3 linked regions of the Homo sapiens genome follow. The protein of the gene in region 3 purifies or fractionates together with the protein of the main gene of each other region. This does not show direct contact. Each region holds a gene or a part of one and is shown on either strand. Other genes may lie near its edges.

The links.
Region 1: the proteins of TIMM23 (region 3) and SLC2A8 purify together in Homo sapiens (affinity purification with mass spectrometry; one large-scale study listed by BioGRID and IntAct). This does not show direct contact.
Region 2: the proteins of TIMM23 (region 3) and ATP12A purify together in Homo sapiens (affinity purification with mass spectrometry; one large-scale study listed by BioGRID and IntAct). This does not show direct contact.

The regions. Positions count from the first base shown.
Region 1 is NC_000009.12:127,403,669-127,407,168, reverse strand, and holds part of SLC2A8 (solute carrier family 2, facilitated glucose transporter member 8), read right to left. Parts: coding exon 3,366-3,500; intron 3,211-3,365; coding exon 3,102-3,210; intron 2,352-3,101; coding exon 2,178-2,351; intron 1,750-2,177; coding exon 1,604-1,749; intron 58-1,603; coding exon 1-57.
Region 2 is NC_000013.11:24,686,717-24,690,438, reverse strand, and holds part of ATP12A (potassium-transporting ATPase alpha chain 2), read right to left. Parts: intron 2,121-3,722; coding exon 1,917-2,120; intron 1,178-1,916; coding exon 1,064-1,177; intron 102-1,063; coding exon 1-101. UniProt on the Homo sapiens protein: The catalytic subunit of a H(+)/K(+) ATPase and/or Na(+)/K(+) ATPase pump which transports K(+) ions in exchange for Na(+) and/or H(+) ions across the apical membrane of epithelial cells.
Region 3 is NC_000010.11:45,978,895-45,982,616, reverse strand, and holds part of TIMM23 (mitochondrial import inner membrane translocase subunit Tim23), read right to left. Parts: intron 95-3,722; coding exon 1-94. UniProt on the Homo sapiens protein: Essential component of the TIM23 complex, a complex that mediates the translocation of transit peptide-containing proteins across the mitochondrial inner membrane.

The sequences.
Region 1 (3,500 bases), on a different chromosome or scaffold from region 3:
ACTGAAGATGCAGAAAGCGGAGGCAAGCCAGAAGGCTCCATAGGGCCTGAGGACCTCCTGCAGAGAGAGGAAAGGCCATGGGTGGACGCGGGGAGAGATCAGGAAGCCCCACGCGATCACTGAGACAGCTCTGCCACCAGGGGGTCCAGTCCCCTGACCCCAGCCTGCCCTGCCCAAGGCCACACCCATTTTATCTCCACCCAGCTCTGGGACATGGAGGATAGTCTGGCATCCAGTCTGGTGGCTTGGGCCGAGCACTGTCCAAGATACCGAGGTCGTATGGCTGGGGAAACTGAGGCTCACAGCAATGAAGTGACTGCCTCAAGGCCAGAGACCCGCTATCCAGTGACAGCTGGGCTCCTGTTCCAGGTCTGACTCCAGGGCCCACAGACCAACCCTCCACCCTCAGCTTTGGCCCCACCCTGAGGCCCCCGGTGGGTTCTTTCATAGTGTGGTGGAAATGGGTGAGACAGGGCAAAGCGAGCATGGCCCCAGGAGCACATGGGGCCTTCAGTCAGAACCTGTCCCTGCCATCCACCACCACTGTGACCTCCCACGTGCCAGAACTAAAAAGGTGCTTCTCAGCTCCTGGTCCTCTGGGACCTGGCGATCTCTCCCTCCTCGAAGGCCTTCTCTTGGCCTCTTGGACATTTTCTCTCCTAAAAAAGGACTGTTAGGTCCTTTGTCACCTCCTTCTTGGCTTCTTTTCCTCCTTCCTTTGCTGCGCATCCCCTCCCAGCTGCAGCAAGTAATCTCCACCCCCAGGCATCGGCCTGGCCCCCTCGATGTGCTCCCCGGGCAGTCCTGCCTAAGCGGGTCCCAAGCTCTGCACAGACTCCAGGCTGGCCCCTCATGACCCGCCCCACCACATCCTAACCCAGCCCCACTGGGGTTCATTCTCCCACCACTGCCATGGCCTTTCCCGTCCTTGTCATAAAGGGGACCCTGTCCATCTTGTTCATTGCTCTCCCTGGCGCCTTGAATGGGCCTGGACATGGCACATGCCAGGAGACCTGGAGGGCACAAATGACTGAACAAACAACCAGATCATCTACCCCAGAACTGTCTCTCTGTTGGCTGGGAAGCCCCGGGACAGGGGCCACACCTGTGCCAGTCCATCCGTGAGAAGGCAGCAACAGGATGAACTGAATTAATGCTCCCATCCGTCTTAAGAGCAAGCTGCTGTTACTCTCCTCCAGTTTCAGCCAAAGAAGCGGGCTCAGAGAAGGTAAGCATCATACCCAAGGTCACACAGCAAGGAAGTAGCCAGGGTGGGGCTGCAGCCCAGCCCTGTCAACTCTTCCCATGTAAGACCTTAGGCTCAAGGCCCGCTTTCCTGACGTTCACTAAGGGGAGAGGCCAGCTGTGCTGTCTGACTGCCAAGACAGGCAGAGGACTCCCAAGGGGTCACAGCCTGGGTTCCCCATCTGGCCTAGCCCATCTGCCTCCACGTCGCCTTGCCCAAGATGGCCAGTGGCCCAGGCATGGTGGGGCTCAGGCTGCATGTAAGGCCACGACCCTGGGTCTTCTGCAATACAAGTGGTTTTAGAAAGTGCTTCTCGGCTGACTGCACGAACGCGGTGCTGGTGGAGCCTGCCCTCACCATGAGGCTGCTGAACTCCTTGGTCACGAGAAAGGCCATGAGCCAGTTGGTGAGGACGCAGATGCCTGTCGCCACGCCCTTGACATGCAGAGGGAAGATCTCTGACATGAGGAGCCAGGGGATGGGCCCCCAGCCCACCGCAAAGCCTGTGGGAGCGAGACAGGCAAGACAGGCATCAGGGTCCGCAGGGCTGGGCTCCTCAGCTTGCTGCAGAGCCAAGAGACCCAGCTTCCCAGCCTGTGGGGCTGTGGGGTCCCGGATCCCAGTGTGGTCCCACCAGCTCCATGCTTTCCTGCCAAGGCCTCGGCCAGCCTCTTCCCTCCTCAGGCACAGGCTCTGTCTCTGAGATGGGGTCACAACGGGGCCTGCTCGAGGGCTGCTCAGGGGATTAAGTGAAAGGAACGCAGAGGGGCCTAGTTCCACAGCTGCATGTGGTCAGAGCTAGAAATGCAGAGCTTGGAACTTACGAGAGGAGAGGTGAGGCTGGGGAAGACCCCACCTGCCGGGAGCCGCCACAGCAGGGCCGGGGGGATCACCTCCCACTCCTCGCCCAGCCTCCCACAGGCCCCCTTACCGGCGATGAAGAGGCACATGCTGCCCACGGCCAGCCAGGCCAGCCCCACGCTGGCATCAACAGGCTGTGCAGAGACAGGCGCCGAGATGGCCACGTGCGAGGAGTTGCCAGGGCCACCCTGGGTCAGCTTGAAGTAGGCGCCGAAGGCACTCGTGCTGAACACCATGACCACACCTGCAGGCGGGAGGGCGGCAGTGGGCGGGGCACCCGGGGAACGGCCCAGGGCGCAGCAGCATGGCCTGGATGCCTCTGAGAGGGGCAGGCCCGGCTCCCAGAGAACGGCCAGCTTGGTGTTCTGGCACCTTGGCCGCAGAAGCCCTGACTGGGTGGCAGCCACCCCGCCTTGGACCTCAGCGAACTGCAAAAAGTTCCCGGAGCAGACCCTCTGGGCCGAGGAAATGGGAGGTACCGGCACAGAAGCAGCAGCGAGTAACCCTCAGCCCCGACGGTCGTCTTCGCAGCAGCTGCTGGGTACCAAATGTCCGTGGGCCGCAGCTCTTGCTGAAGGCCTCACGTGGATCACCTCCCACTCCTCAAAATGGTGCTGAGGGAGGCACTGCCATTACCCCCACTTCCCAGAGGGGGAGACTGAGGCTCAGAGAGGTAAAGTCACTTGTCCAAAAGGACCCACAAACTCTTGAGTCACTTCACCTTCCTGGCCCTCAGTTTTCCCGTCATAAGCTGGGGCTGTGAGAGTGCCTTCTGGTGGGTTCACCACAGAGGTTAAAGGCGTGGTGTGGGAGTGCCACTGGCATGGACAGGCCTGCAGTGAGTGCTTGGTGACAAGCTGCTGTCAAATCATGGCCGCATTAGTCCATGATGTTTGTCATCACAAATGCTCCCTGTCCTCCTCCTGCAGTGTGGTGGCCTTGGCGAAGGCCCTCCCCCGCATGGCGGGGAGGCTGCACAGGGGTGAACCCTCACCTGACAAGACCAGGAGCAGCCTCCGCCCTGCTCTGTCCATGATGAGAGCCGCCACAGCTGTGAACAGCACCTGGATGACACCCACGACGACCGAGGCCAGGCTGCTGTCCTGGGGGAGACAGAGCCCAGGCAGGTCAGGTGGGCCAGCTGAGAGCTGGGTCCCTCCCTCTCCAGGCCTGTGCTGGATGGCTGGGCCCTGGGCTTGGGGAGGAAGCTCCATCTATGTGGGGGCTGGACGAGGCAGGCCAGGCAGGGCCCTTTTACCTTGAACTTGGCCTCTTCAAAGATGGTCTCTGCATAGAACATGACGGCGTTGACCCCCGACAGCTGCTGGAAGGCCATCAGGGAGACGCCGATGATGAAGGGCTTGTAGATGCCGGGCTGCCGCAGCAGGGCCAG
Region 2 (3,722 bases), on a different chromosome or scaffold from region 3:
GCAGGGATCTGGTCTCCTCCTTTGACCTCCACAATGTCCCCCACCACCAGCTGCTCTGAAGGGATGGTCTTCTTCTCGGAATCTCGGATGACGAGAGCTTGCTGCAGAAAAAAACCATGACAGATGCCTCAGACCCTGGAAGGACACCGGCCCTCCCCCAAGTCTGTGCCGCACCGAACCCCAGGACAGAGGCCTTGGAACTTCCTGATCACTCTCACTGTTGAGTCCATGCTGTTATGCAGCCTGCACCTGGCCCTGTGGACACAGCATTGCTGCTGGAGCATGAGGCTGTCAGAACAGCAAGAATGAAACAGAAGACTGCTTCACCCGAGGCCTGAAGACTCTAAGAACTACTTTTTCTTGAGCTTATGGAGAGTTCTTGGAACAGAAGAGTCGCTGTTGGCCAGATCTGGCCAAGCCAGAGCCCTGGGCCTCCTAGAAAAGGAGACCACTAAGGGTGAGCAATCCTGGCTGGGCGTCTGGGCAGAACACTGAAGGTGGGGCTGGGGAGGCTGATAATCTTGCGAGTGTCAGGGAAATTTTAACGAGGTGATCTCCTGCTTCAAGCTTGGCAGGAGGCGTCTTTTCCACCCAGAATCTCTCCAGCCCACAGTTCTCTGGGCCAGAGACAGTGTGGACACCTGACAGGGGTTTTTGGGGAAGAAGGGAGCACTGGGCTTCCCCACCAAATGCATTCTGGGGCTCAGGAGCAAAAATGGTCACAGATAAACAATTGCAGGCTGGTCTCCTTGGCTGCCAGTGAAAGAACACTCCCTGACCTTCCACAGGTCCCTTCCAGAACCCAGAAGGACTATCCACAAACACTGAGGAGCAGGAACAGAAGATGCCTTGGGCTAACCAGCACTGCCCTGGGTGGTGCCTCATTTGACCATCAAAATCCTGTGAGGAACTGGGGTTCTGACAGATGGGTTAATTCGCCCACGATTGCTCCGACAGGGAAGGAAGTGGAAACCCGTAGCCCTCAGGGCCCTGTGCCCCTCCCAGCTGAGGCTTCCTCACCTGGGAGTCACCAGAGGCCAGAGGATAGGTGGCTGCCACTCACCTGAGGGATCATCTTATTGAAGCTGGACATGATGTTGGTGCTTTTTGCCTCTTGGTAATAAGCAAAGATCCCCGTTAAAATGACCACCAGACCAAGCACACAGCCCAAGTACACCTGGGTGAGAAGGAGGGCGTCAGTCAGAGAAACCAGCAGTGGGAAGCAGCCGGGCCCTGGGGCTAGAGCTCTCCACGGGAGGATGCAATGCTGGCAGTTACGCCCTGGTATAATTTACAGGCCATGGAATTCGCCCATGTTAAGTGCGCAACTTATTGATTTTTTTTTTTAAGTTTACAGAGCCATGACACCACCCTCCACCGCAGCCTCAGAGCATCTCCATCCTGCCTGGAGATCCCTCCGGCCCCTCTGCCGTCACTCCCTGCTCCTGTCCCATGCCCTGGCATCACCGATCTGGTTCCTGCTTCCAAGGATGTGCCTGTTCTGCACATTTCATGTCAATCCAATCCTATGACATGTAGCTTGTTGCCTCTGGCTTCTGTCTCTTGGCATCACGTTGGCCAATTCAGTTTTGTGGATTTGGTACTCATGTCTCGGCAGGCACAGCTGCTCTCCGTGTTAAAGGAAGAGGTTAGCTTGGGGGAGACAGAACCCCAAACTACTTCACATGGATGCAGATTTTCTCCCCCTTAAAAATTCAAGGTGTTTTGTGTATCCCTCTTCATGCCCACACTGCCTCTAGAAGATCAGAAAGCCAGATAGAATTTCTGTTTTACAGCTGGGAAAATGCCTGACTTTCCCACACCTAGGCAGTGGCATTCAGCCCCCAGCTGTGCCCCCAAGGCCTCACTGGATGGCTCTGCCAGCAAAACCAGGAGGGGACACCCCAGAGCCTTACGTTGTTCAGGGATGCAGACTTGTCGCTGGAGTACTGAATCCCATATGCAATCCAACAGAGAAAGGCGCCCACCCACAGGAGGATAGAGAACCCCCCCACCATCTGCTTGAGGAACTTGACGATCTCAGGCGTCTGCTTGGGAGGGGTGAGGGAGTTGGGCCCATCCCGGGCCAGGAGCTCGGCAGCTCTGGTGCTGGAGAGACCCTGGGAAAGCCAAACAAAGCACATGCACAACCAAAACAAATACGAATTAGACATTCCTCCTCCCTCAGGGGTTGGGCTGCATATTTTTGCAGCTTGGGGTGAGGCATTAACGTGGCCAAAGAAGGTCCCGAGAAAAGCAGACCGTGCCTCACTTCTCCAGCTGCCCAGCTTTTTTGAAAGACTATGTAATGCTTAATACCAGCCAGGCACTGTGCTCTGTATATTCACTCATTTAGTCTTTAAAATAACCCTTGAGGCAGGGGCCATTATTCCTCCCTCTCGTCATTCGCAGAGGTGGAATTTGAGGCACAGAGAAATTACGTAACCTGTCGAAGGGACCTGGCCTGTCAATGGTAGCGACCAGGTTCAACGTGGTGACTGGGTCCAGAGCCACTGCACTCTGCTCTGCTAAGGGGTTTTAGTTTCTTAGAGGTTTATCCGGTGAGAGGACTAATTTGATGAAGGAGGACTTGGAATGAAGAAGCTGCTCACCAGGGCTAAGGGCAATGCAGTAACTCCCCAGGAAATAGGGAAGCTTCTGGAATCCTGCACAGAGAGCATGTGGCTTTAGTTTCCATCCTTACGCCTGCTCCTTTTCCACCTTTCTACACATCCAGCCTAAGTTCTCATTCATCTTGACAGGCATAAATCCTACCCAAGCCCTGAGCCCATGTGAGCAGCCCCTGCCCTGGGGGGCCTGCCATCCGTGAGGCACCCTCACCTTTGAAACCCTACATGTTCACAGGAATTTCCCCCACAGACGATCTTTGGTGGACAAGTCTGTAGATACCTCTTCTCCCTAATTATGTTGTAAGCTACTTAAAGGGCAGGACTCTGTCTTGGTCTTTTTTTTTTGAGACAGAGTCTCGCTCTGTTGCCCAAGCTGGAGTGCACTGGTGCGATCTCGTCTCACTGCAACCTCCTCCTCCTGGGTTCAAGCGATTCTCCTGCCTCAGCCTCCCAAATAGCTGGGATTACAGGCAGCGGCCACCACACTTGGCTAATTTTTAAAATATTTTTAGTAGAGACAGGGTTTCACCACGTTGGCCAGGCTGGTTTCGAACTCCTGACCTCAAGTGATCTGCCCACCTTGGCCTCCCAAAGTGCTATGATTACAGACCTAAGCCACCATGACAGGCCAGTCTTGGTCATTTTTGTGTTCTCTCCCGGGTCTCATGCTTTTTCTGTGGTAGTGATTCAAATATCTGTTGAATGGCTAGATTCAGGCTCACCACCTCGATCCCATCTCCCTCCACTCCAATTCCTTTTCCAGAACCCCAGACTCATCTTTCTGAATAACTGTGGAACATTTCCTCAGGGGTGTTCCGGAGAGACTTCTCCTGGTATAACTCACAATAAGTTCATCATCGCCTCCACCCTCCTGCCTTCCCTGCTCTCACCTCCCTGCCCCCACCCCAGCCCATCACCCGACCGGCTCTCCTCCTCCTGCTGCTGTGACATGACTAGCGAGATGAGGGGCTCAATAAAAATCCCCGCAAGTCCTGCTGGTTGTGTCTCTCTGCAATTTCTTTCTTTCTTTCCTTCCTTCCTTCCTTCTTTCTTTCTTTCCTTCTTTTCTTTCGACAGAGTCTCGCTCTGTCG
Region 3 (3,722 bases):
CTGTCATGCAACATCCTCCAATCGTAAAGAAGGCCAGCTCAAATCTGCCCCGGGTTTTATTAGCTCCGGTAGGTAAAATAAACTCATCTGTATCCTAAAAGGATAATAATGAAAACCAAGCTGAGTGTCCCTCAAGACACAAATCTTGTAAAGTTGCCTTTTTAACATTTCAAAGTAGTTTTTCACAGAAAATAAACCTTAAATTAACTCAAACCTATACTTAAACAAAAATAAAACTTTCTGCAGCAGTAACACCTAAATCAAAGTGAAATGAAATACGAAACATAGTTCTTAGAAGGGAGTCTCATTAAAGACTTTGTTTCCTTCAAAACGTAAATCTGATAGATTTGTGCAAAAGTGTTTAGAAAGGACAGCTCTAGAGAAAGGAACACTGAAAGCTATGAGAAGAACAGAACAGACAATCAGTCTGGAAGAAACAAATAACTTTCATTCTGTAGCAGCTATTTATTGTGCATTTTTCTATGTATAAAGCCAAATGTTCACAAACATGAGCAAAAACTAATAAAGTACAACAGTTTGGATCAATTATGCAAGGGCAAATGACCCCCTTTAATAATTCTTATCTGTTTAAGGAGTATATATTCCTTTGATACTCTCAGAAAGCTATAGACCCTATTTCTAGTAATTGCATACACAAAATGTGGCATGAACCCCTGGAAGGTCATCCAAAATACTAAGACTGAGAAATGACACTCTTAAGAGCAAAATATGGTTACCAATTTTGAAGAGTCAATGCACCTTTATGAAAAACACACTCAAAAAAACAAACAAAATTTTATCACCATGTTGGATTAAAAAAATAAAATCACACTCATTTTTGGCAAGCTTTCCAACCAAAGATGGTTAAAATAAGCCTCTAATGGCTAGGTCACACCCTTGGCAAAAAGACACATAGTGTGTTACATTTAACATAGTAAAGACCACTGACAATTAACATTCTCCTACATCCTTGTGGCAAATACTGAACGTTGATTCAGAAAATTGTATTCCTAATCAGAAAACTGTGGTTCTGCCTTGGTTTTTTCTTTCTGGCATGTGCACACATCCTCACCAAAAATTGCAAAAGTAAACAAACACATCCACTCTCATCACATAAGAATGGTCTGTTGGGCAATAATAAAATCTGAATAGATCCCATGTCATAATATAATTGTATAGAGTTTTATAAATTTTGGGTACTTCAACTTTTAAATAATGACTTAGTATTAAACTGCTTTTTGTTTGAGTTTTTAGAAATGCTAGATTCAATGTGGTAAGGTAAATAATTATTCTTCAGTCTCAGGCCATGGTTGCTGAGAAGAAAAAAAAAATTATCCTTCAATACAGAAACAGATTACTAATTAAGAATAGAAAACTTGGCCAGGCACGGTGCCTCCCGCCTGTAATCTCAGCGCTTTGGGAAGCCGAGTCGGGTGGACTGCCAGAGCTCAGGAGTTCGAGGCCACCCTGGGCAACATGGTGAAACCCCGTCTCTACTAAAATACAAAAAATTAGCTGGGCGTGGCAGTGTGCGCCTGTAGTCCCAGCTACTTGGGAGGCTGAGGCAGGAGAATTGCTTGAACCCGGGGGTGGAGGTTGCAGTGAGCTGAGATCACGCCACTGCACTCCAGCCTGGGTGACAGAGCGAGACTCCATCTCCAAAAAAAAAAAAGAAAAGAAAACTTAAAAAAAAAAAAAAGGCTGTGATGAACATTATCAAGCAAGCAAAAGTGCACGTTAGCACCAACTCATTCTCCTGCTAGTATCAACTGAAAAATATAACAAGGGTTGCAAGCAAACGTCCATCAATTCACACACAAACAAGGTTGTTATCAAAGTATGTTAATATATTGAATGTATAGAAGATTTACTAAAAACCTCTTGTTAAACCTGTTCTGCTGACACTCCAGGACACTAGTATTACTAAAATCCCAAGTACCAGAGCTTGCTGACATGGAAGATAAATCCAAGAATGGGTATCAATGTACTTGCTGGGGGAAAAGAAAAAACTTTTTTAATTTATAATTTTGCGTGTTTAACACTATGGATGTTAAAAATATTTAAATTTTCCTTATTTTTGTACCAGATGTTCACCTGGGCTAACAAAAAAATTTATTACTTGACACAATTTAAAAAAAAAAATCAATAAGGATACAAGAGTAGTGACAATACAAAAGCATTAGTAAGAGAAACTACAATACTGTATCAGATAAAAGTTGGCTAGGCACAGTAGCTCACGCTTGTAATCCCAGCACTTTGGGAGGCCAAGGTGGGAGGACTGCTTGAACCCAGGAGTTCCAGACCAGCCTGGACAACACAGTGAGACCCTGTGTCTACTATTAAACAAGAAAAAAAAAAAGTTGTTGCCAAAGTCACGACATGGTGAGTTGACAGGTACTATTTTCTTTAAGATGTCTCTAACCTTCAAAAGTATAAATAAAAGTTTTACAAAATGTAATTTCTATTATCTTTAAATTTAAGGTCTCCAGAATTATTTCCAATAACAGATGAGGTTTATAAAACACTTTTTAAAGTCTGAAGTCCCTCTAGAATTCCAATGGAAGATTAAATGTTCATGATGAAGAATGAATTCACAAGTTTTTGGGGGGATATGAAATATTTTATGTCTAACCTTAATAAGCCCCACCTAGCAATGCAGGGCCACAATGATATTGAATTTTAACTAGATCTAGAGTACAACCTCTAAGTGTAGATTCAACATTAAAGCAAAATACATGCAGCTAGTTTTGAAATTTTGAGTAAACTGACAAAGGAGTACTTTTAAAGTAAAAAAATCAATGAACACCCAATGTTAAAATATAACATTTGAAAAACATTTCAAAAATAATGAAGCTTTAAATTGGCAAGGTCCGAACCATCAACTTGCTTCAATTTGAACACTTAACGCAAACAAGAAATGCAGCAGCTGTCAGATGCCGTTAGTGATTCAACTGTGAAATAAAAGGTTCCAACCATAATGCTTAAAAAAAAAAAAAAAAAAAAAAAAAAAGGCCAGGCATGGTGGCTCATGCCTGTAATTCCAGCACTTTGGGAGGCCAAGGCAGAAGGACCACTTGAGGCCAGGAGTTAAGAGACCAGCCTGGGCAACCAAGTCAGATCACATCTCTACAAAGAATGTAAAAAAAAAAAGAATTAGCCAGGCATGGTGGTGTTCATCTGCAGCCCTAGCTATCTGGGAGGATGAGGCAGAAGGACCGCTTGAGCCTAGGAGTTTGAGGTTACAGTGAGCTATGATGCTGCTACTGCAACTCCAGTCTGGGAGACTTTGTCTCTTAGAAAAAAAAGAGAGAGAGAAAATGGAGTTACTGATCTGTATCTCATGTATCACACAATCCACTTACTTAGAGCGTACAATTCAGTGGTTTTTAGTATATTCAGAGTCGTGCAACCAAGACTACAATAAATTTTAAAGCATCTTCATCACCCCCCAAAAAAATCACATACCCATTAGCAGTCACTGCCCATTTACTCCTAACCCTTGGCAGCTACTAATCTACTTTCTTGTCCATATATTTGCCTATTCTGGACATTCCATATAAATGGAACCACACAATATGTGGTCTCTTGTGACTGGTTTCTTTCATTTAGGAAGTTTTAAAGGTTCATTTATATTGTAGCACAATTTAATAATTCTTTTTTTATTACCAAATAATATTCCATTGTATGGATATGCCACACTTTTTTATCCATTCATCAGTGGA